4 linked regions of the Homo sapiens genome follow. The protein of the gene in region 2 purifies or fractionates together with the protein of the main gene of each other region. This does not show direct contact. Each region holds a gene or a part of one and is shown on either strand. Other genes may lie near its edges. The genes, in order: ABCB9, PCDHAC1, DDR1 and PDZD8.

Region 1 (5,473 bases), on a different chromosome or scaffold from region 2:
ACTCCTGGGCTCAAGCCATCCTCCCACCTTAGCCTCCCAAACTGTTGGTGTTACAGGTGTGAACCACCATGGCTGGCCTCTATTTTTAAATTTAAAATGTTAATTTCTATAAACATAAAACAATAAAATGCTACAAGCTAATCATATTCTCATAGTTGTAATGAATCTTGTAACTAAGACATGAATGTTCCCCTCCACCTTACCTTTTGAATTCCACCACATGGAGGTAGCCAGTGTTAACAGTTTAGTAAATATCCTTTTCAATGTGTTTCCTATCTTTATAGAAATATATCAATATATGAAGGTACACGTTTATAATTTTTTTAAACAAAAATAGAATCATGCTGTGTATATGTATCTATTACAATTCAGTTTTAAGGATGCACTGTCACTATTTAACCAATCCCCATTTATGGACACCTAGATTGTTTCCATTTTAATTTAATTAATTAACTAATTAACTTTTGCTACTTATGGTGTTGCAATGATATCTTCCATACTATATATTTTTTTCATTTTGTAGATATGGGGTCTTTCTGTGTTGCCCAGGCTGGTCTTGAACTCCTAGACTAAAGCCATTCTCCTGCCTCTGCCTCCCTAAGTGCTGGGATTACAGGCATGAGCCACCAGGCCTGGCCATACTATTATTTTTGTAGGCCCAGATTCCTGAAACTGGAATCTAGAGATGATAGCTCCTTTAAATTGTTCTCTTAGAAGGGAGGGGACCACCGCCAGGGCAGTCTGTGTGACCTGGAGCCCTGCTGTGGCCTCTTGCTTCCTGAGATGAGCAGACTCATTCACAGCAACATTCTATATTCTATCCCTCTTTCTTTTTTTCAGGACAGGGATGGCCAGTGAGCTTTCTCTTAGAGGTCAGGGAACTTGGCTTATCCCAGAGCAGCAAATGTAGCAGGCCCCAGTTTGCTGATTAGGGGAGGCTGAGGGCTTGTGGGTACAGGCGGGAGTCACTGTTGGGGAAGAAGAGAGGCAGCTCAGTGCAGTCACTGGGCCCTGATCAGGTTTCAGGCCTGAGACTGCTGGTGTCTCCAGGCCCCAGGCAGCAAGGCTGCTGGGGACAGCTGGATGAACACATTCCTGGCCTCTCATGCTCCATGCTCCCTCCTCCCCAGATCTCCCTGGTGAGCCAGGAGCCCGTGCTGTTCGCCCGCTCCATCACGGATAACATCTCCTACGGCCTGCCCACTGTGCCTTTCGAGATGGTGGTGGAGGCCGCACAGAAGGCCAATGCCCACGGCTTCATCATGGAACTCCAGGACGGCTACAGCACAGGTGTGGAGCTGGGGGTGGCCCCTCTCCTGGGCCCACAGGGTCACCCTCAGGGACATAACCCTCTGAGTTAAGCACTGCCCCCTGCCACCTGCTCTTTTTTTTGTAGAGATGGGGTCCCGCTACGTTACCCTGGCCAGACTCGAACCTCCTGCGCTCAAGCAATCTTCCTGCAATCCCCAAAGTGCTGGGATTACAGGCATGAGCCACTGTGCTGTGACTCAGCAAAATATTTATTAAGTAAATTATTATAGAAGCCCATACACTGGAATATTATGCTGCTGGGAAAAAGAGGAAGTAGAAGAAGGGGGAGGAGGTGGAGGCGGAGGAGGAGGTGGAGGCAGAGGAGGAGGCAGCTCTCCATATAGCAGTATGGAAAGGTCACTGAGATAGGATGCTGAGTGAGAAGAGCCAGGTGCAGAGCATAAGGAGCTGGGTTTTTTTTTTCCTATTAAAGGACTGGGGAGATAAAAATAACATGTTCATATTTGCATAAAGAAACTAGACAAGGACATGTAAGCAACTAATGAAAGACGTTTTGGTGGGAGCAGGAGGGAACTGAAGAAAGAACTTAAACTTTTCATTATTTAGAGTTTTATATATTTTTAGTTTTTTTAGTTTTTTTTTTTTTTTTGAGGCAGGGGCTTGCTCTGTCACCCAGGTGGGAGTGCAGTGGCGTGATCACGGCTCACTGCAGCCTCAACCTCTTGGGCTCAAGCCATCCTTCCACCCCACTTTTTATTTTTGTTGTAGAGACGGGGTCTTGCTATGTTTCCCAGGCTGGTCTCAAATTCCTGGGCTCATGCAATCCTCCTGCCTCCCAAAGTGCTGGGATTACAGGCATGAGCCATTGTATCCAGCCTGTATTTTTAGATTTTTGAACCACACGAATAGCCCCTTTTCAATAATTAAATATATACAATGTATAGGGGGGTTGGGGAGATGTTGATCAAAAGATAAAAATTTTCCCTTAGGAATAAGGTCAAGAGACCTGTTGACTATAGTTTTTTGTTTGTTTGTGTTTTAATTGAGACAGTCTCACTCTGTCGCCCAGGCTGGAGTAGAGTGGAGTAATCTTGCCTCACTGCAACCTCCGTCTCCCAGGTTCAAGCGATTCTCCTGCCTCAGCCTCCTGAGTAGCTGGGATTACAAGTGCCCACCACCACACCTTGCTAATTTTTTTTTGTATTGTTAGTAGAGACGGGGTTTCACTATTTTGGCCAGGCTGGTCTTGAACTCCTGACCTCAGGTGATCTGCCTGCCTTGGCTTCCCAAAGTGGTGGGATTTCAGGTGTGAGCCACTGTGTCTGGCCAGCTATATTTAGTAACAGTGTACTGTGTACTTGAAAATAGCTAAGAGAGTAGATTTTAAGTGTTCTCTCTTTAAAAAAGTGATAAATATGTGAGATAATGTATATGTTAACTGGCTTGATTTAGCTATTCCACAGTGTATATGTATTTCAGAGCATCACGTTGTACACCATTAAATACAAACTATTTTTACTTGTCAATTTAAAAGAATTTTTAAATTAAAATATACTAAATACACTAATTTTTAAAAAAATTACCTCGATATGAACTTAAGTAGTTCTAGTAATTAATTGATATAATAAATATATATTATTTTAGAATAGTGTTTTGAAATTCAGTAGAGGTGGTGGTTGTGCAACATTGTGAATGCACTAAATGCCACTGGATTATTCACTTTTTTTTTTTTTCTTGAGATGGAGTCTCGCTCTGTCGCCCAGGCTGGAGTGCAGTGGCGCGATCTCGGCTCACGGCAACCTCTTCCTCCCGGGTTCAAGTGATTCTCTTGCCTCGGCCTCCCGAGTAGCTGGGATTACAGGCATGTGCCACCATACCCGGCTAATTTTGTGTATTTTTAGTAGAGACAGGGTTTCACCATATTAGCCAGGATGGTCTCAATCTCCTGACCTTGTGACCCGCCCACCTTGGTTGGCCTCCCAAAGTGCTGGGAGCCACCGTGCTCAGCCCGGATTATTCACTTTACAATGGTTATGTTTATGTTATGTCAGTTTCATCTCAATGAAAGAAAAATGAAATAATAAAGAACTGGTGGCGTGGCCAGGTGCAGTGGCTCACGTCTGTAATCCCAGCACTTTGGAGGCCAAGGCAAGAGGATCGCTTGAGGCCAGGGGTTTGAGAACAGCTTGGGCAATGTAGTGAGACCCCACCTCTACAGAAAAATATTTTAAGTTAGCCAGGTGTGGTGGCATGCACCTGTAGTCTCAGTTACTCAGAAGGCTGAGGCTGGAGGATTGCTTGAACCCAGAAGTTTGAGGCTACAGTAAGCAGTGATTGTACTACTGCACTCTAGCGTGGGTGAGAGAGTGAGACCCTGTCTCTAAAATAATAATAATTGATTGACTCAATTTCCTATTGATGGACATTTGAGTCTATTTGTTTTATTTTTTGCAATAACAGCGCTGTGGGTCACAGGTGACCTGTGTCTATATTGTTGTGCATGGGAGGAAGTCGGTCCATGGGGAAAATTGGTCCAGGTGGGCTTGCGGGGCCACAGGCCACACATCTGTGGTGAATACACACAACCTTTGCACTGCACAGACTCATAGACCCAGGGTTATTGCTGCAGCTCTTCAAGCCATGGGGCTCGCTCCAACTCCCCTTCTCCAGGAGGACGGGTGAGGGCCTGTCTCCCTGCAGCCTCACCTGCACTGTGTGCTATCAGATGTTTGGGTTTCTGCCAAATGAATGAGTGAAAATTGGTAACTTGCTATCAATTTGCATGTAGGCTTAATCTGCATGCCCCTTATGAGTTGGGTGGGGGGAACATCATTTCATGAGCTTTCAAGTTGTGGGTTCCAGCCCGCCCTTTCCACAGCTGCAGGGCAGGGCCTCTCACTCTTCCCCGGTGCTGCCCGGCCTCACCCATTGCTAAATTGTCTCTGTGCCTCCACCATACAGAGACAGGGGAGAAGGGCGCCCAGCTGTCAGGTGGCCAGAAGCAGCGGGTGGCCATGGCCCGGGCTCTGGTGCGGAACCCCCCAGTCCTCATCCTGGATGAAGCCACCAGCGCTTTGGATGCCGAGAGCGAGTATCTGGTGAGTCACAGGGTGGTGGGCAATGCGGGGGCAGGAGCGGCTCCAGGTGGCCAGAGCCCCCATCGCCCAGCAGATGGATGCTGAGAAGAGACGGGCCCCAGGAGCTCTCCCAGACTATCAGCCTCCTGGGCTGGTGAATTCCTGGTGTTGAGAGTGGGGAGCCAGGAGCCACTCTGGACCCAGCCTCCAGGCTCCAGGCAGAGCTGTATGGTGTGGGGCAAGAGAAGGCATCAGAATGGGGAGACCTGGGTCATGAGTGGTGGCTTACACCTGTAATCCCAGCACTTTGGGAGGCCGAAGCAGGTGGATCACCTGAGGTCAGGAGTTGCAGACCAGCCTGGCCAACATGGTGAAACCCCATCTCTACTAGAAATACAAAAACTAGCCAGGTGTGGTAGCACATGCCTATAATCCCAGCTACTTGGGAGGCTGAGGCAGGAGAATTGCTTGAACCTGGGAAGTGGAGGTTGCAGTCAGCCGAGATTGTGCCACTGCACTCCAGCCTGGGCGACAGAGCCAGACTCCATCTGGCTCAAACAAACAGACAAAACAAAACAAAATAAAATAGGCCCAGTATGATGGCTCATGCCTATAATCCCAGCACTTTGGGAGGCCAAGGCAGGTGGATCACTTGAGGTCCGGAGTTCGAGACAAGCCTGGTCAATACAGTGAAACCCTGTCTCTACTAAAAATACAAAAATTAGCTGGGCATGGTGGTGCATGCCTGTAACCCCAGCTACTCGGGAGGCTGAGGCAGGAGACTCACTTGAACCCGGGAGATGGAGGTTGCAGTGAGCTGAGATTGTGCCACTGCACTCTAGCCTGGGCGACAGAGTGAGACTCCATCTACAAAAAAAAAAAAAAAAAGGCTGGGCGCAGTGGTTTATGCCTATAATCCCAGCACTTTGGGAGGCCGAGGCGGGTGGATCACCTGAGGTCAGGAGTTCAAGACCAGCCGGGCCAACATGGTGAAATTCCATCTCTACTAAAAATACAAAAGTCCGCCAGGTATGGTGGCAGGTGCCTGTAATCCTAGCTACTTGGGAGGCTGAGGCAGGAGAATAGCATGAACCTGGGAAGCAGAGGTTGCAATGAGCCGAGAT
Region 2 (6,016 bases):
GTATTCATTAAAAGTATAGGCTAGAGAATACACTGTTTTTTATTAAATGGTATATCGTATTAAAGATCCAACTAAATCTGTGATCTCTATCACAAAGCCTTCTCTGACTCCTTCCTCCTCACTCAAATGTTCTCTTATGTTCCCTTTCTCCCTTCTTTTAACCCCCATTGTAATTTATTTTTACATCTTTTGTGGTTATCGTCATCTTTTAATAATGCATTGCAATAGTTTAAGTAAATGTTTCACCTTCCATATTATATTCATATAAAGCAGACTCTTACATATTTTTCATTCTTCACTTTAAATATTAGAGTGCCTTACACATCTGTTGCTTATAAAATATTTTGGTATTTTATTTTTAATTTTAGACCTTTATGTCATATTACTTTTATTGTTCTTAAATAGGTTTTAATTTTTGCCCTTGTTTCTCAAAAATAAACTATAAGTCCCTTGAGGCCTAGGGCAATCTTCTAATACTTCTATACTTCCAGATTTCTTGGCACAGGAAGTGCTAAGAAGGAGTGTTTAGTTCAATTGATGAAATGTTGTGAAAGGCTTGTCTAAGAAATATTTCAAAACACAGCTAGCAGCCATCTCCGGGCCAAAGGAATCAAATTCCATAAAATTTGCTTACCATGGCATTGACATTAGCGTGATCCCCTTTCCTATTCCGAATCTGAATACAGGATATTGGCAAATTCAGTCCTACCCCAGTGGCAAGATTTCGCAGGTCGGCAGCATTGTACTCCCCACGCAACAGCAAACTGTTATTATCAGAACCAAGTCCCAGAGAGGCCCGATAGAGATAAGTCTGAGAAAGTCTCTCAACTGTAGTGACATCTATGGTGGCTGATGTCATGCAAGGATTTGAAACCATCTTACTTCCATACCTCAGATCCTCTGTAGAGCGACAGCAGCTCTGAGCGCAACAGCCTGGGCTCTGGTGCAACTTGGTACACACGAAGAAAAGTAAGCACCCCAGAAATAAAAAGGAAATACAAGCCAAGGCAATTACTAAATACAAGTTCTGGGCAGAAAGCTGCCCTCCTGGTTCCCAGACATCTTCAAAGTCTGGAAGTAACTGAGGGACAGAGTTGCTCAACAGCACACCCAGAGTGACAGAGGAGGAAAGTGGTGGGTCTCCATGGTCCCGAACCACTACCACCACCCTCTGCTTAACTGCATCAGTGGGAAGAACTAAGCGAGCAGTACGGAGCTCACCTATATTGGCTGAAATTCTAAAGAGACTAGAGTCAGACGCCCGGGAGATGTGGTAGGAAAGCCAGGCATTAGAACCACTGTCAGCATCCTCTGCTACCACTTTTGTGACCAAGTGTCCAGTCCTGGCAGAGCGGGGCACAATTTCCACTGGGACAGAACCATTTCTGGGCAAGGGAAACAAGATAACCGGATAATTGTCATTCCTATCTACCACAAACAAGTTTATAGTCACTGTTGCACTTCTGGGAGGAATGCCACCATCCCGGCCTTCTACTTGGAAATGAAACCCCCTGAGCTGCTCAAAGTCAAAGGAAGTTTTGGCAGTGATGGCCCCACTGGATGATTCCACTGCCAGCAAGCTAGAGGCTGATGGCCCTTCAGAGATAACATCCAACAGCTCATAAGAGACAAGGCCATTCTTCCCCAGGTCGGGGTCCTGGGCAAACACTCGGCCTAGAGAGGCCCCAGGGCCATTGTTTTCAGCAACGAAAAGTTCCTGCTGGGGTTGAGGAAAGTTTGGTGTATTGTCATTCACATCAGCAACTGACACAGTGATTGTCCTTCGGGTGCTAAGTGGGGGTGAGCCACTATCTGAGGCCGTGATCAGGACTTGGTATTCACTGATCTGCTCCCGGTCCAGGGGCCCATCAATCAGCAGGCTGTAGTAGTTGTCAAAGGAAGCCGTCAGCTGAAAAGGGCCTGCACTAGACATGCCACAAATGACCCTACCATTAGAATCGAGGTCTTCATCCTTTACACTAAAGAGAGCAATCACTGTGCCAGGGGCAGCGTCCTCAGGTACTGGGTTCGAAAGAGTCAGGAAGTCCAGTTCGGGGGCATGATCGTTCACGTCAGTCACCTCCACCAGCAGTTTAGCGGTGCTAGCTAAACCAAAGACACCTTCGTCCCTCGCCTCAATGTATGCCTCCAAGAGCGTTTCAGGCGGACCTAGTGAAGCAGCTACTTGCACCTCCCCACTTTTAGGGTGCACGTGAAAGCGGTGTCGCAGCTCTGCTTGCGTGCTGTTGCTTAGGGAGTACTGGACTTCCCCATTGGACCCTTCATCTGGATCCAAGGCTTGAACTCGGAATAACACAGTCCCATTGGGTGCAGTCTCTGGAACCTTGGTGCGGTATACGGAGCGCTCAAATACAGGCGCGTTGTCATTTGTGTCCACCACAATGATGGTGACTTGTGCGTCTCCTGAGCGGGCAGGTAGCCCGCCGTCCCGAGCTGTAAGCACCAGCAGGTGGGTGGCGCGCTGTTCGCGATCCAGTGCTTTCTCCAACACCAACTCCGGGTATTCGCTGCCGTCAACCCGCGATCCCATGTCCAGGCGAAAGTGCTGACTGGGGCTTAGGCTGTAGCTTAGTATCCCATTGCTTCCCTCGTCGTCATCTTGGGCATTCGGGAGAGTAAAGCGGGCTCCGGGCGTCAGGAACTCGGGGATGTGCAGCTGCACGTCGCCGGCAGGAAAGAGAGGTGAGTTGTCATTGGTGTCCAGGACGTGAATCCGAATCTTGTGCAGCTCCAGCGGGTCCTCGAGCACCAGGTCGTAGGTCAAGACGCAGGCAGCTTTGGCCCTGCACAGCTGTTCGCGGTCCGCCGGCTCTCTGACCACCAAATTGCCGCTGGGTAGATCCACCCCGAAGTAGAGCTCGCGGTGGCTGGAAAGGAAGCGAAAGTTCCGCGAGGACATAGCGGCCGCTGGCAGCCTCAAGTCCGCGGAGAGATTGCCTACGGCTACGCCCCGCTCCGTCTCCTCCGGCACTGAGTACTCGAGCTGTCCCGCTGCAGCGCCGCAGGAAACCCACAAACATAAAACTGCCACCCCACAGCCCACCATCCTCCCTCTAGGCGTCCACGTTCCACCAACACGCTACACCAACGGTGACCCAGGACCATGCTCCGGACTCCTGGAGAGCACGAGCCGCGGGGAAGAGCACGCTCCTGCCGGCCGTCACTGCTGCGGGCTGGATACTCAGCGACCGCCGACGTTGCGCCTCCCGAACGCCGGCATTGCCGGGGCTGGCCAGCTGGGAGCCGGGCTTGCTAGGCTGGAGGCTGGGCAGCCGTCTGGGAAAGCGGAGCCGGCCGGGTGTTGAGGAGCGCAGCGCCGCCTAGGGGTGCAGAGACGAGGCCGCCCGCCCGGGCGCGAGAGGTGCTGTCTCCAGTAGCAGCGGGCTGGGGTCTCGACCACCACGCTGGCTGCGGGCGCAGGGCGGAGCCTGGGAGACGCCCCGAGACACTAACACTTCTCTCCTTAAACGGTGTTTTCTAGGACAACGCCCTGAGGCTGCCCAGATCTTAACCTCCACATCCTCTGCCCGCAGATTGCTGATAACTGTGGCTGAGCCCAGCTGGGCTCTTCCTGCCGCCCTTTGGGAGCCGCGCGTCGGGTCCCGGCGCTCTGACCCCGGCGCACCTCTCCGGCGGAGAGGGCGGGACTCAGCGTGGAGCTGCCGAGCGGAGGCGGCGAGAGGCGGGACGGTGAACGTGAGCGACCACACCTTCTAGGCTTAAGGAAACAGGAGCCCCCCGAAAGAAGTGCTGCGGGGGGCTTTCCGCGCTGGATCCTGCTGCAGAGCTTTCCGCGCTGGATCCTGCTGCGGGTTGAAGTCTGTCCTGCACCCTCTTGTATCCCAGGAGCTGCCAAGAGGGCAATAGAGACGACAAGGAGGGGAAGAAGGTTGGGGAATAGTGTCCGCATCAAACTGCCTCCGGACTCTGGCTTTTCGAGGCAGCGGAGCCAGCGAGCTCAAGGCTTTTTTTTTGCGTGATAGCAGTTTCTCCTTCTCCAAGAGGCTCTACTTGGGAGTGCTTTGCAAACGGCCCTTGACGATCTGGGTGAAAGAGGAGGTTATAAACCAGTCAATAGCAATAACTAGAAACTCAAAGACTTGACGACCCGTCCCCAAAGAAGACGTGAGAAGTGGAGGGGAAAGTACTGAGATACTCATTAGAGTTTGACCAGGAAACTACTCTGTAAATTTTCTTTCTGTAAATATTTAGAAAACACCATGAGGCAGGATAAGAATAGGCTAGATACCCACCCTCGCTTTATTATTATTATTATTATTATTATTATTATTATTATACTTTAAGTTCTAGGGTACATGTGCACAACGTGCAGGTTTGTTACATATGTATACATGCGCCATGTTGGTGTGCTGCACCCATTAACTTGTCATTTACATTAGGTATTTCTCCTCGCTTTTAATTTGGTCTTTTGCGTGGATATTGGGACAGTGATCAGTTCTATGAGAAACATCTCTGAGCCACAACAGATACACCCAAATTCTGCCTAACACCCTACAACCAGTTCCTTTCCCTAAGAAGGAGGCGAGCCAAAAGGAGACTCATTGACTATTGACTATGAAGCACTAAATTCCTCACTCAAATCCTTCTTTTAATACAGGTGCAATATGTCCAAAGCCCCAATAATGAAACATTTGAAAGGCAAAATCTGAACACAGATCAAGAATTAAAGTTTCCAGGACATATTTTCTGGTAGAAACCTGCCTAAAAGTATCGATAATTATTGAAGCTGGGTGATGGTACATTGGGGTCAATTACACAATTCTCTCAACTTTTGTGTATGTTTGAAATTTTTTTTCCTTCCTTCCTTCCCTCCTTCCTTCCTTCCTTCCTTCCTTTCCAGATGAGCGTGTTGCTTTGTTGCCCAGTCTGGTCTCAAACTTCTGGGCTCAAGCGATCCTCCCATCTTATCTCAGCCTCCTAAAGTGCTAGGATTACAGACATGAGCCACTGCACTCACCTTGCATTTTTTTTTTAACTTTTTATTTTATTTTATTTTATTTTATTTTATTTTATTTTTTTTTTTGAGACAGGTTCTTGCTCTGTCACCCAGGCTGGAGTGCAGTGGCACGATCTGAGCTCCCTGCAACCTCCCCCTCCCAGGTTCAAGCGATTCTCTTGCCTCAGCCTCCTAAGTAGCTAGGACTACAAGCGCGCACCACCATGCTCGGTTAATTTTTGTATTTTTATTAGAGGTGAGGTTTCGCCATGTTGCACAAGCTGGTCTCGAACTCCTGACCTCAAGTGATTGGCCTGCCTCGGCCTCCCAAAGTGCTGGGATTACAGGTGTGAGCCCCATGCCACCGCACCTGGCATCAGCCTGCATATTTCTATAATATTTGAAAACATTTAAAAATTGCTGATTAAAATGGTGGGGAGAGGGGTAGCTCGGGCATTCTCTTTTTAACACTAAGAGTGGGATTGATAATGCCAGTGTTCCACTAAAAACCAGTTACCTCCCTAAACACACAAACCCATTCGTTATCTCTTCTAGGGAACTAGAAAGGGCACACTGTGATATAAGGCAATATAAGTAGTAAATACCCCTTGGCTAGTTTGCCTTTTTGAATTAAGAAACCAAAAAATCATTGACACCAAGTCTCAGATAAAATTAAAGGAGGAAACATGTCAGCCTATTAGGTAGTCACAAGTACAGACCTCATTAGATCTCACCAGGATGCAAAACAGCCCATAAAAATTGAACTTATTCTTCACCAAATTTCTAAACCAAAACTAATTTTCTGCTTCAGTGCCAGAGATTAGGATGTGCATTTCTTCATTTTAAATTAATGCTGCTAAGCAAGCTAACTGCTTTGGAATGAAAATTTATTCTTTCTGCCTTAAACAGATGAAATACAACTGTAAAGATGTACCGAACTTTTAGGTCTGCAGCCATGCCTCCAATTATACCAGGTTTAGGAATTCTGAGCTGCACCTAGAGGGATAGTATGTGTGGGTATAGATTAGGGCGTGAGGA
Region 3 (6,131 bases), on a different chromosome or scaffold from region 2:
TAAAACAACAACAACAGTCATTGTTTAACAGCATCAGCTATATTTTTAGAATGCTTCCCCTGTGCCAGACACTGGCCTAAACCCTTAAACAGAATCCATAATTTTATCTTCACAGTCACTTCATAAGGTAGATACTATTACTATCCATATTTAACACATGAAGAAACTAGGGCAGAGATCAGTTAAATAACTTCCTAAAGCCCCATTTCTCCAATCAGGAATGGGCAAAATATCCCCATAAACAACGGCTTAGAACAAACAACAAGTGTGCAAAAAATGTTTATAACACATACAACAGGAAAAGGTTTAATAACTACAATAAACTAAGGCCCCTTAGGAACTGACAAGAAAAAATATATAAGTAACCCAATAAAGAAACAGCCAAAGAATGTGAATAGTCATTTCACAGAAAAGCAAAGCCAAATTGCCAACAAACATTTTTTTTAATGGTCAAATTCACCAGCCTCAGGGAAATACCAAGCAGACTGACAAGATATTTTTTTAAGGCTGTAACATATAAAAGTGGTAGAAAGTGATGAAAAGGGAGGCACCATGCTCAATGGCAGAAATGAGTGTTATCTTCTATTTGGAAAGCAATCTAGCAATGTCTATTATAATTAAAAATGCACATCCTCTTCGACCCAGCATTCCCTCGAGAGAGAAGCACCAGGAAGTAAGAACATATGTGCAGGTCTGGGTCTGGTGGCTCATGCCTGTAACCCCAGCACTTTGGGAGGCCGAGATGGGAGGATCACTTGAGGCCAGGAGTTAGAGACCAGCCTGGTGAACATAGTGAGACCCCATCTCTTTAAAAAAAGTGAAAAATAAAAATAAAAAAGAAGATTTCAAAGATGTTTATTATGGTACCTTTTGTAAGACATAAATCTGTAAGATATGTGAATGCCCACAGGGGACAGGCTGGAATTAAAAAAAATAAGGTTTATTGACTACTATGCAGCTATGAAAAGTAACAAAGAGGCAATATATTCCTAACTTTGTGTGATTTCCATGTATATCTGTTGAATATGAAAAGCAAGCAACAGAAGTATAAAAAATATCCCACCTTTTGAAAATAGAATAAACAAGCACCCATGTTTGTATATATACCTGTGTGTACGTCTAGAAGGAGAGAATATATAATAGAATATAACAATAGAATACAATATAACAAGAGTTAACATGAACGGGGCAAAAGAAAAGCAAATTTAAAAAGACAGGTTGATTGTACTATTTTTCTAAATCTTGTAACATAAATGCATTTATGTAAAATCATAAGATATGTAAAAGAATATGAAAATCATTTTGACTTTTAAAAAATAAATATGTCCCAGGAAAGGTTGGGCAATTCCTTGTTGAGGATATGATAGAATTAAACATCAGATAAGCCTGGACCAGCTCACCCTGCTGCCCTCCCACATAGGAGTCCAGAATTCTAAGAGAAGGGCAGAGGGGACCCCAGCACCTTCTAGTCTTACTGTCCCCTATAGCCCTCTAGGCCCAGGGTGGTCCCTGGACCATCAGCAATACCTGGAAGCATGGAAGAAATCAGAATCTCAGGCTCACCCTTGACCTGCTCAATCAAAATCTGCCTTTTAACACAATTCCCAGGTGACCTGTGCCCATTAAAGTTTGAAAATCCCTACTCTGTTCCTCAGGCCCAGGAAGCTTACCCCACATAAAACTATTCTAAATGGCATCTCCTTACAAACCCAAGTAACTACTCTCCCCTCCCCTGCTGCAGGAAAAGCTATCCTAACCTGTACTGGTCTCAGAGCCCTGTACTGAAGTCTCCAGGCCCTGGAGTCCTGAGGGACTCGACTGCCACCTCTTATCAGGTTCAGGGCATCTTGGGCCCAGTTATCCCTGCTCTGCCTTCCTGAGACCCAGACATCCAGTCCCCCCAGTTCCCACTTCCAGAAGGTGGCTGCCTCTGAGGGACTGAGGAAAGGCTGAGTTGCCTTGGAGACGAGGGCGGGTCTAAAGACAAGGAAGGCAGGTCACCCCAGGAGGTAGGAGGAGTGGGGGATACTCCCCCATCCCTTTGTCCTCCTCCAGCTGCTCCCACAATGCACTAGGGCAGGAATGTAAGAGGCAGCTGAGACCCCAGAGCTCTGAAGCAGCAGCTGAGGGGGACGACTGAGTTGTGGGGGGCACTCAGAGGCTAGAACCAGAAGGCATCACGCCTGGTCCCTTAGGGTCCAGCGCCGGGGAGCAGGCTGCCAGAGTCCCAGGAGACTGGCTTGGAATTCCTGGGTGCCGCTCTCCAACCCCACCTCTCTCGGGAACAGCGGGGCTCTTGTTCCCCTAAGTAACCTTCATGCCTATCCCAGATGAGTCATCAGAGCCACACAGAGCCGAGAGGAGCCCGGGGCAGAGATACAAAGGCAGGCAGAGGATACGAGGCAGGCGGAGACAGAGCGAGAGCCACAATGCAAGAGGTAAATAGAGCAGGCTCAGAAACACGGGGCACAGAGCCAAGCAGAGGAACACGGAGAAGCACAGAGACGTCTGGGCTGTCTGTTCTCCAACACCCCCAGTCACCTCATCTCTCTCCACTGGGTCTTCAGTCCACAGTCAGAGACCCAGAGGGCAAGAGAGGACAAGCCCAGAAGACCTTCCCCAATCCCACCCCCTTCCACTCCATTACAACCAAAGACAAACCAGGGGCCAGGCCACCCTGCCTCAAGCCCTTCACGCTCCTCTCCCAACCCCCAAGTCCCACTCAGACAACACCCACACAGCTCTGTACACACACACACGGTGAAACACACAAACTTACTGAACTGGCTGTAAACAGCGAGGCTAAATGTGGCATGCACACACCCACCTCTCAGTGTCCCTGACAACCCTCACAGAGTTTCTGAGACAGAGCAAACACAGAAGCTCATGCATACATCAACCCGTCCACACCTTGGCATTCCTTCAAGTCCAACCCCATCGCTCAGTGAATAGCCACCTTCAGACACCTGTGAACATGAAATGACAGACACCACATGCTCCTGTGACCAAAAGACAGCATGAGACACACACACCCGGGCCCTTGGGCACAGGATCCCCAGAGAACTGGGGCCCAGCCTCTAACACACATGGGTGACCAAGCCAGAGGGACGTCGAGGGGGCAGGGAACAGGTGGGCGCTGGGTGGGAAGAGTGGCAATAAGGACAACAGCCTTTCCCTGCCTTTCCACTCACTCCCCTTTCACCTGTCTCCACCACACCACTCAGTCCTGGACACACCTACAGGCCCTCAGCAACAGCCAGCGAGCTTGGGCGCCTGCCTCTGGCTGCTGGAAGCGCTGGGAAGAAATGTTCAGCCAAGAGCCAGGCATGGGGGGGTGGGACCCTGAAGCTGGCGCTCACCGGCAGTGACATTCTCTCATGCCAGAGCTAATTGACCATCCAGCCGGGAAGAGTGGTGTCACTGGTGGGTTAGAGTGGCAGTCCCTCTTTTTGCTGGACTGTGACCAGACTGACCAACTGGGTGTTGGCTGAGCGGAGGCTTAGCAGTTAGATGCCCGCAGGGACTGGCCAGGTGGAGGGCAGGCGATAGATGAGCTGACTCAGTGGGGCTGCACAGGAGCACCTCCTCCCGGGGCTCAGTTCCTCCGCACTGAGTGAGAGGGGACTTGCCTCAAGGCTGGAGGCTCAAAACTCTTTCTGGGAGGTCACGGGCTTCACCTCCACCCAGTCCCCGCCCCCGGTTTTCAGACGGTATGCCAGAGCATCGGGGAGGCGGGCAGGGAGGCTTAGAAGAGCTGGACGACCAAGCATGGCTCGGGACGTCCTGCCTCCCCCGCCCCTCGCCCTGCAGGCGCCGCCGCGCGCCCCCACCCCAAGAGCCCCAGGCCTCCGCCCGCGGGTTCCGCCGCCGCTCTCCCTACCTCTCATCGCTCTTCCCGGCAGACCCAGGCGTCCGACCCGGGAGCGGGGCCTCTTCGGCGGCGGGGCGAGGGGCGGGGGAGGCGGAGGGAGCCAGGAGCCGGGAGCCGGGAGCGGGAGGCGCCGGCGGGGCTCGGGTGTCGGGAGGCGGCTCCCGAGAGCAGCTGTCGGGGGCCTGTTCCGGGGAGAGGAGCCAGGGCTGGGGCGGCTCGGGCCCAGGCGCCGCCTCCCCCTCGCCTCGGCTCCCTCCCTTCCTCCTCCCGCTCCTCGCTCCCCTCCCTCCCCTCGGCCTTCTCGCCGCGCGTTCGGGCTCGCAGCCCTCCCTTCCCCCTCCCGGACCCAGTAGTCCCAGTGGCTCCCACGCCCGGCGCCGAGCTCCAGGCCCCGCGCCCGCCACGCCCACCCCGCGCGCTAGCGCCCGGCCCGGCCTCCCCCAGGTAACCCGCCCGCCAAGCCCGCCTGGGCGCTCCCAGGCCGCCCAGCCGCCCGCGCCGCTGCCTCCGGCCGGCTCCGCGCCCAGCCCCCTCCACCCACTCGCAGCCCACCCCCGCTTCCCCAAACGAGAACCTCCAAAGCTGGCGCCCCAGGGGGCTGGCTGCAGTCCCGCTCAGGGCCCACGAGGGGAAGACGCCCCTCCTACTTCTGGGATCGGTTCCTGGTGGGAGAGGCAAAGGGGAGCAGCCCCAGGGCACAGAGGAAGAAGCAGGTTCCCACAGGCTCGGCCCAGCCCAGCTGCGGGAGTTAGCCCAGAGAAGGGAGCAGAGCTCAGGTCTCAGGGCTCACCTGTCCAGCCAGGCCCCAGACTGCTCTTCTCCCTCCACCAACCTTTGCTCCTCTCTCGCAGCCTGTGCGCTCCCGCCCCTACGACCCAACCTGGAAGGCCCCAGACCCTGAAGGCGGGCCCACTCTCTTCTCCTTCTCCTCTCAGTTCCTCTCTCTGAAGGGCGTTCTAAGGGACCCGGGGGTCCAGACGCCCAGGCCCTGATTCCCCTGGGCTCCCAACGGAGTGGAGTGGGAGGGGGACTCAGGAGTCCTCAGGGCAAGCCTCCCTCAGGCCCAGCCAGCTCTGGCCGTAGTGGGCCAGAGGGTCTGATCACTGGCCAGAAGAGGCCAAAAATGAGGCCAGGACAAAGTTGAGTGGTCGGGAGGAGGAAGAAGAGGAGCAGGAGAAGGATGGAGGCACACTGAAAATCACACACAGTCAAAAGGAAGGGGACCAAGAGACCCAGGGAAGATGAAACAGTGAGACTGAGTAGGCAAAGCAACTGAGAGAGCTACTGGGCAGAGGATGGAGCGGGACAGAACAGCTTGTGGTGGGAGGTGCTTTTTCCCCACTCAGCACTACCTCAGCCCCTCACCTCTCTCCACACCCCCACACCTGCTCACCACCTAGACAATGTCACGGTCACAGGAAGTTCTCGCTCCACTGCACATCTCCGCCCCAGGAACCTCACAGTAGATAAAAACATACCCTGCTTGCAGTCCCAGACAACAATCCCAAGAAAGAAACACGAAGTCCCAACCAGACAAGTACACAAAAGCACTACCAGGAAGAAGCTGGCCCTTGGGAAAGGCCGAGGCACACATGGGCACTAGTTCAGAAGCCCAAGGACGTTCCAACGGCTGAGGGACCTGCTAACAGACAGCCCCAGGGTCACTCGAAGAGCAGCTTCTTCCCGCCTTCCTGTCCCACCAAGCCCCCAGGGATTCATTCCCCCAGAACACCTACCCCTCCAGAGAACAGCAGCTGGGGAATCTAGGCCCAGGAGACGCTGGACTGGGGGTGGGGCCAGCCTGGGGGTGGGGCCAAGGCTTCCCAAGTCACCTCACCTGGCAGCCCACAGCCCCTCCTTCCAGGAGCTGTGCTCTGGGAAAGCCCCAACAGGCCTGCCAGGCAAGCTACAGCCCGTCATACCCTGGTGGGACATTCCACACCCCAGGCCCACGCTGACCCCAGCTAAGTGGCATGGCAGTGCCAGACAGAGGGGTCCACTGGGGAGAGCAGAAGGAGCTAGAGAGTCCTGAAACCTTTGTCCCCTCTTCTCACTGCCTCAGGAGAAATTCCTAGTGGTGATGCCCACCTCGCCCCAGCTCTAGGCTGGAGGAGTGGGAGGGATGCAAGGCTGGGGCCCAGTGGAGTCAAGTGACAACGGAAAGGGAGCTGGAGCCAGCTGGAATGCGGGACTCGGAGCCGAGATTCCCAGGGGCCTGAGAGGGAAATCCCAGCCATCCTGGGGCCCAGAGAGCAGCACC
Region 4 (5,487 bases), on a different chromosome or scaffold from region 2:
TTCTCCATCTAAAGTGTTTTAAAAGCTGAAATTAAAATAATTCAAAGCAGCTGGAGGAAATCCAATGTGCAAGAAGTAAAATCAGCACTAAACTGGGTATTTAGGTGGAGTACACTTAGGTGTGCTAAGAAAGCTAATGTGGTGGCTCATGCCTGTAATCCCAGCACTTTGGGAGGCCGAGGCAGACAGAGCACCTGAAGTCAGAAGTTCAAGACCAGCCTGCCCAACATGGCAAAACCCCATCTCTACTAAAAATAAAAAAATTAGCTGGGCATTGTGGCACACGCCTGTGGGAGGCTGAGGCAGGAGAACTGCTTGAACCTGGGAGGCGGAGGTTGCAGTGAGCCGAGATCATGCACCTGCACTCCAGCCTGGGCAACGAGAGAGGAAAAAAAAAAAAGCTAAGGTCACAATGCATTACATACGGTACCACAGTAATCAGGTGTTTGCCTTAGCAGAGCAGAGATATTGATCTCTCCTGTTCCAGTTTCTCACAAAACTGAAGGGCTTAAATATTTCCAATGCCACTAAAATAAGCTTTATGTGTTCTTTGTTTTCCCTAGAAAGACTAACCCTATAATAGCATGAACTAGTTTATAACCATTTTTATCACGTTTACTATACCCACCGCAACACTAGGTAGTATGCACTAAGCACTTACTGAAGATAAATGACTATTTTTTAAATGACATAATTATTCATCTCTAAGACAATGATCTTGCAATTCAACTTATACAGAGATATGACGAGATATAGAGATATGAGCAACAGTACAAGAAAAAGCACAACAGGTTAAAAATTAGCTATTACAAGATTATTCCAGCATAGCTAGAGTAATGCACAATGCCATTGTCTATTCTCCCCAAATATTAAAGGTTAGATTTCCTATCAACATTAGTAAGTAAAACTGTCACTATTATAACCATCAAGGAATTTTAGTAGCTATTTTAAAATATTTTCCAATGTAATAGAAAGGAAAAAAGTATGAAAAAGTAAATAAATACAACATATTACACTTGACTTTACAAATGATTTTGTCAGTTTTCTGTGAATTTACTTTGAAAGATTTTGAGATACGGATCACTCAATTCATTAAATTCAAATATACTGTCAATAAGTTGATGCCCCCCTTTTTGGAGATCAGTGAAGTAAATGCTTACATAGTTATTAATGACCCATTCCACTAAAGCAAACTATCCACCAAACTCGAACAAAAAGGAGACACTATCTACTTACCATCACTACATGGTAGAAAAATGGATTGCATTTCAAGGCATTTTTTTTTTTCTGGCAGAGTGACTTTTTAAAATTCAACATTATATTGACAATGTTTTTTTTTTTTTTTTTTTTTTTTGAGACAGTCTCACTCTGTTGCCCAGACTGGAATACAGTGGCGCAATCTTGGCTCACTGCAACCTCCGCCTCCTGGGTTCAAGCAATTCTCATGCCTCAGCATCCCCAGCAGCTGGGACTGCAGGTGCGTGCCATTTTTAGTAGAAGCGGGGTTTCACCATGTTGGCCAGGCTGGTCTCGAACTCCTGACCTCAAGTGATCCACCCACCTTGGCCTCCCAAAGTGCTGAGATTACAGGCATCAGCCACCACGCCAGGCCTGACAATGTCTTTTATTTATTTATTTATTTATTTTTACTTTTTGAGATAGAGTCTTGCTCTGTTGCCCAGGCTGGAGTGCAGTGGTATGATCTCGGCTTGCAGCAATCTCTGCCTCTCGGGTTCAAGCGATTCTCCTGCCTCAGCCTCCTGAGTAACTGGAATTACAGGCATGTGCCACCATGCCCAGCTAATTTTTGTATTTTTAGTAAAGATGGGGTTTCGCCATGTTGACCAGGCTGGTCTCGAACTCCTGACCTCAAGTGATCCGCCTGCCTTGCCCTCCCAAAGTGCTGGGATTACAGGAGTGAGCCACCGCACCTGGCCAACAATGTCTTTTAAAAAATAAAATTGCTCTATGACAGTCCCTTCAAAAATGTAATTAAAAGAAGGATAAAAATGATCACTCTCCCTCTCCACTCCAGCTATTAAGTCTTCTCATTTTCACTAATCAGCAACAGTAATGCTCCCTATTTACTCCTCCAGTACGGGTCTCAAATTCATATAACTCCAAGCCAGGCAAGTACCATCAATTAAGCACAGCAAATAAGGGGGGACTATAAACTCCACCTAGGAGCTTACACACCGAGTTTCAACCCCAAAGCTGCTACTACAGTCCATCTCTCCATCCTGTTGTTGCTCTGAGAAATGCAGCACTGGCGCTACAAGATATTCCAATTTTTCCTAACAGAAGCCACAAATCCAAAACACACAGAATTTTCCATTTTTTAAACAGTGCAGGCCAAATTAAAAGTACCTGCAAACTGAATCTGCTTGTCTATATACAATAATACTCCAGGAACACAAGCATCCGTAAGAATCTCAAATATTTGACTCCTAAACCCTAAACAGAGCTCCCCACCCAGACACTATTACTCAGACTCCATGTTTAAGATGAATTATCCACGTAGTAAAAGAACATTAGTGGTAATCTTTCTCCCTTGAGGATGGATTCTGAGGTTCATTTAAAAAAATATATTGCTATTATAATATACTATTTTAATTAAAAAATCAAACCAATTAACATTGAGGTGGATGAATGAAATTCCTAACTTGAATAAATCTGTAAACATATTGTCTACATATTATAATTCATTTTGTAAAATAAAATGTTTTACAAACATTGTAAGTTTGTTAACTTGGGTAAAATGAAATGTCAGTCAGCTGGGTCCTTAGAAAGCAACCACTTGAGCAACTTAGCATCTCTAGGTGAAACATCAGGAACTGGCAGTCCAGAGAGGCTGATTCACTTTAGCAACACGAAAAAGGCAAAATAAATGAAGGGGGAAAGAAGTAATAACAACGTTAACTGGCAAGATATTTGTTATGTAATGATTACAAATGCCAAAGGATCGTAAGACTCCATACAATTCTCTTTACTGCTTTAGCTCTACTAAGAAGATTAGATAGCTAAAAAAGAATAAACTAGGCCGGGCACAGCGGCTCACACATGTAACCCCAGCACTTTGGGAGGCCGAGGTGGGTAGACTGCCTGAAGTCAGGAGTTCGAAACCAGCCTGGCCAACATGGTGAAACCTGTCTCTTCTATTTGGAAACACAATTCTGCTCAATTAAAAAAGAAATGCCACGTGGGACAGTACCCAAAGATTTAGCCTCATGATTTACTTTTAAAAGGATCCTCTAAAATGACCAATTTAAGAAAAAAAAATCAGCTTTATAGTCATACTCTTCTCAAGAGTTCTAGGTTAGTTTGGAAAGATATCCCACATATTTACTATATCGATGGCATGCTTTTAAAAAATAAATCACTTAAGAACAACATAGTTTGTGTGTGTGTGTGTGTGTGTGTGTGTGTGTGTGTTTAAAGGTGGCCTGGCCTTATCAGAGCTGCGTTTCAACACTTGAAAGCTGTGTGACTTTAAGCAAGTTATTTAACTACTCCGAGCTCCATTTCCTCATCTGTAAAAAAAGATGAACACTAGCTAGTTTAATTTTCCCTGTGAGAAGTATGCTATATCTTAGATGTATTGTAATTCATTCTTATCTGAAACTTGAATCAGTCCCACATCATCACCAGTTTGTTTATTTATTTATTTACTTATTTATTTTGGAGACGGAGTCTCACCCTGTCGCCCAGGCTGGAGTGCAGTGGTGCGATATCGGCTGGCTGCAACCTCTGCCTCCCAGGTACAAGCCATTTTCCTGCCTCAGCCTCCAGAGTAGCTGGGATTACAGGCGCCCGCCACCACGCCCAGCTAATTTTTGCATTTTTACTAGAGACGGGGTTTCATCAGGTTGGCCAGGCTGGTCTCACACTCCTGACCTTAAGTAATCCGCCTGTCTCAGCCTTACAAAGTGCTGGGATCACAGGCGTGAACCACTGCACCTGGCCCATCACCAGTTTAAAACACTGGACAGAACAGCTACACAGACAAGAAGTCATCACTTGCTGAGGCAGCCCTTTTCATCGTCATACTTGCTATTTTCTTCTACTAAGCTAAAACCGGCTTCCTGGCTACTTCAACCCCATCAATCCCATTCTAGTTTAAATCTTACAAAGCGCCGGGCAAGGTGGCTCACACCTGTAATCCCAGCACTTTGGGAGGCTGAGGTGGGAGGATCACTTGAATGAACCCAGGAGTTCCAGACTAGCCTGGGCAACAAAGCAAGACCTATCTCTACAAAAAAAATTTTTTTTTAATTAGCCAGGAGTGGTGGCACACACCTGTGGTCCTAACTACTTGGAAGGTTGAGATGGGAGGATTGCTTGAGCCCAGGAGGTCGAAGCTGCCGTGAGCCATGATCCTGACACTGTACTCCAGCTCTGGGCAACCGAACAAAATCCTGTCTCAACAAACAAACGAAAAACACAAAAAAATTACTAAGTATAGCTAATTCAATTCTCACTAGACTCTAAGCTTCCTGAGGGCTGAGTTCAAGTATTGTTCAGTACTGAAATCCCAGCATCTACAACAAGGATAAGCATATAGCAGGTGTACAATAAACATTTACAGATTGAGTGATATGCTCTGTGCAGCTGACTGAGCATTGAGATGCCATCCAGTATAAATAGCACAGATGTGCATACTTCTGGAAATGATCATTTAATGCTTCACATTTAGAAGTTGAAATATCATAACCAAATTCATGCTGTTTTTAAAAAAATCCCTTCAAAGTGAAAAGCAATTTTGCCATACTTTTAAATGGTTGTTATTCAATGATACAGATAATAGTTTTTCAAAGTAATAAACTTCTCAATGCCTCCATAACTTATTCATAACTTACTTCAGATTTACCTAAATTCCAAGTCTACATTAAAAAAAAAATCTCAAAATGATATGTAATCTCACTGTCATTGGCTAGTCTACAAATTTCAAAATAATAATCTAGTCAAATTGTATTAACTGAAAGCTATCAGAAAACATCATAATTGAAGTTGTGATAGAATACCAAAATTTCTAGCAACTTTTTCTCATGACTTTTTTGGCAACACACTGCTATAAATAAACATCTCTCACTGCTTAAACACTAGAACCGAGTTATAATTTAATCACTGATATTCCAGAGGTTAAAAGTAGGTTTCATAAAGTATGTTCTACTTCACAGAACCAGAAATCGAACACAGTGAACAACCAGTTCACCACCCTCCGCAAATCTATGGAAATATTTCCATTACAAAGTAAATTTCTCCTGCCACGCAAGTTTTAAACTGTCACTCTGCGCTGTTAGCCTAAACAAAACATAATTGGTAAGGTACATCTGCCACATACAGAAGTCAATAATCCATTCCAAACCCAAAATATTTCTGGATTATCTTGCTCCTGAAAATTGACACTGGTAGAAAATTAGTGATCCAGAAATAGGCAACTTCCACTAAAAGGCAAGTAAAATTAGGTAAGTAAAATACAAGACTGAC

The links.
Region 1: the proteins of PCDHAC1 (region 2) and ABCB9 purify together in Homo sapiens (affinity purification with mass spectrometry; 2 studies listed by BioGRID and IntAct, with this or other methods). This does not show direct contact.
Region 3: the proteins of PCDHAC1 (region 2) and DDR1 purify together in Homo sapiens (affinity purification with mass spectrometry; one large-scale study listed by BioGRID and IntAct). This does not show direct contact.
Region 4: the proteins of PCDHAC1 (region 2) and PDZD8 purify together in Homo sapiens (affinity purification with mass spectrometry; one large-scale study listed by BioGRID and IntAct). This does not show direct contact.

The regions. Positions count from the first base shown.
Region 1 is NC_000012.12:122,931,089-122,936,561, reverse strand, and holds part of ABCB9 (ABC-type oligopeptide transporter ABCB9), read left to right. Parts: intron 1-1,130; coding exon 1,131-1,290; intron 1,291-4,233; coding exon 4,234-4,370; intron 4,371-5,473. UniProt on the Homo sapiens protein: ATP-dependent low-affinity peptide transporter which translocates a broad spectrum of peptides from the cytosol to the lysosomal lumen for degradation.
Region 2 is NC_000005.10:140,923,944-140,929,959, reverse strand, and holds the start of PCDHAC1 (protocadherin alpha-C1 isoform 1 precursor), read right to left. Parts: upstream 3,662-6,016; 5' UTR 3,068-3,661; coding exon 635-3,067; coding exon of another isoform or gene 611-634; exon of another isoform or gene 448-610; intron 1-447. UniProt on the Homo sapiens protein: Potential calcium-dependent cell-adhesion protein. May be involved in the establishment and maintenance of specific neuronal connections in the brain.
Region 3 is NC_000006.12:30,882,460-30,888,590, reverse strand, and holds the start of DDR1 (epithelial discoidin domain-containing receptor 1 isoform 2 precursor), read right to left. Parts: upstream 4,073-6,131; 5' UTR 3,881-4,072; intron 3,612-3,880; exon of another isoform or gene 3,372-3,611; coding exon of another isoform or gene 3,360-3,371; intron 3,308-3,359; exon of another isoform or gene 3,203-3,307; intron 2,967-3,202; exon of another isoform or gene 2,911-2,966; intron 1-2,910. UniProt on the Homo sapiens protein: Tyrosine kinase that functions as a cell surface receptor for fibrillar collagen and regulates cell attachment to the extracellular matrix, remodeling of the extracellular matrix, cell migration, differentiation, survival and cell proliferation.
Region 4 is NC_000010.11:117,367,522-117,373,008, forward strand, and holds part of PDZD8 (PDZ domain-containing protein 8), read right to left. Parts: intron 1-5,487. UniProt on the Homo sapiens protein: Molecular tethering protein that connects endoplasmic reticulum and mitochondria membranes. PDZD8-dependent endoplasmic reticulum-mitochondria membrane tethering is essential for endoplasmic reticulum-mitochondria Ca(2+) transfer.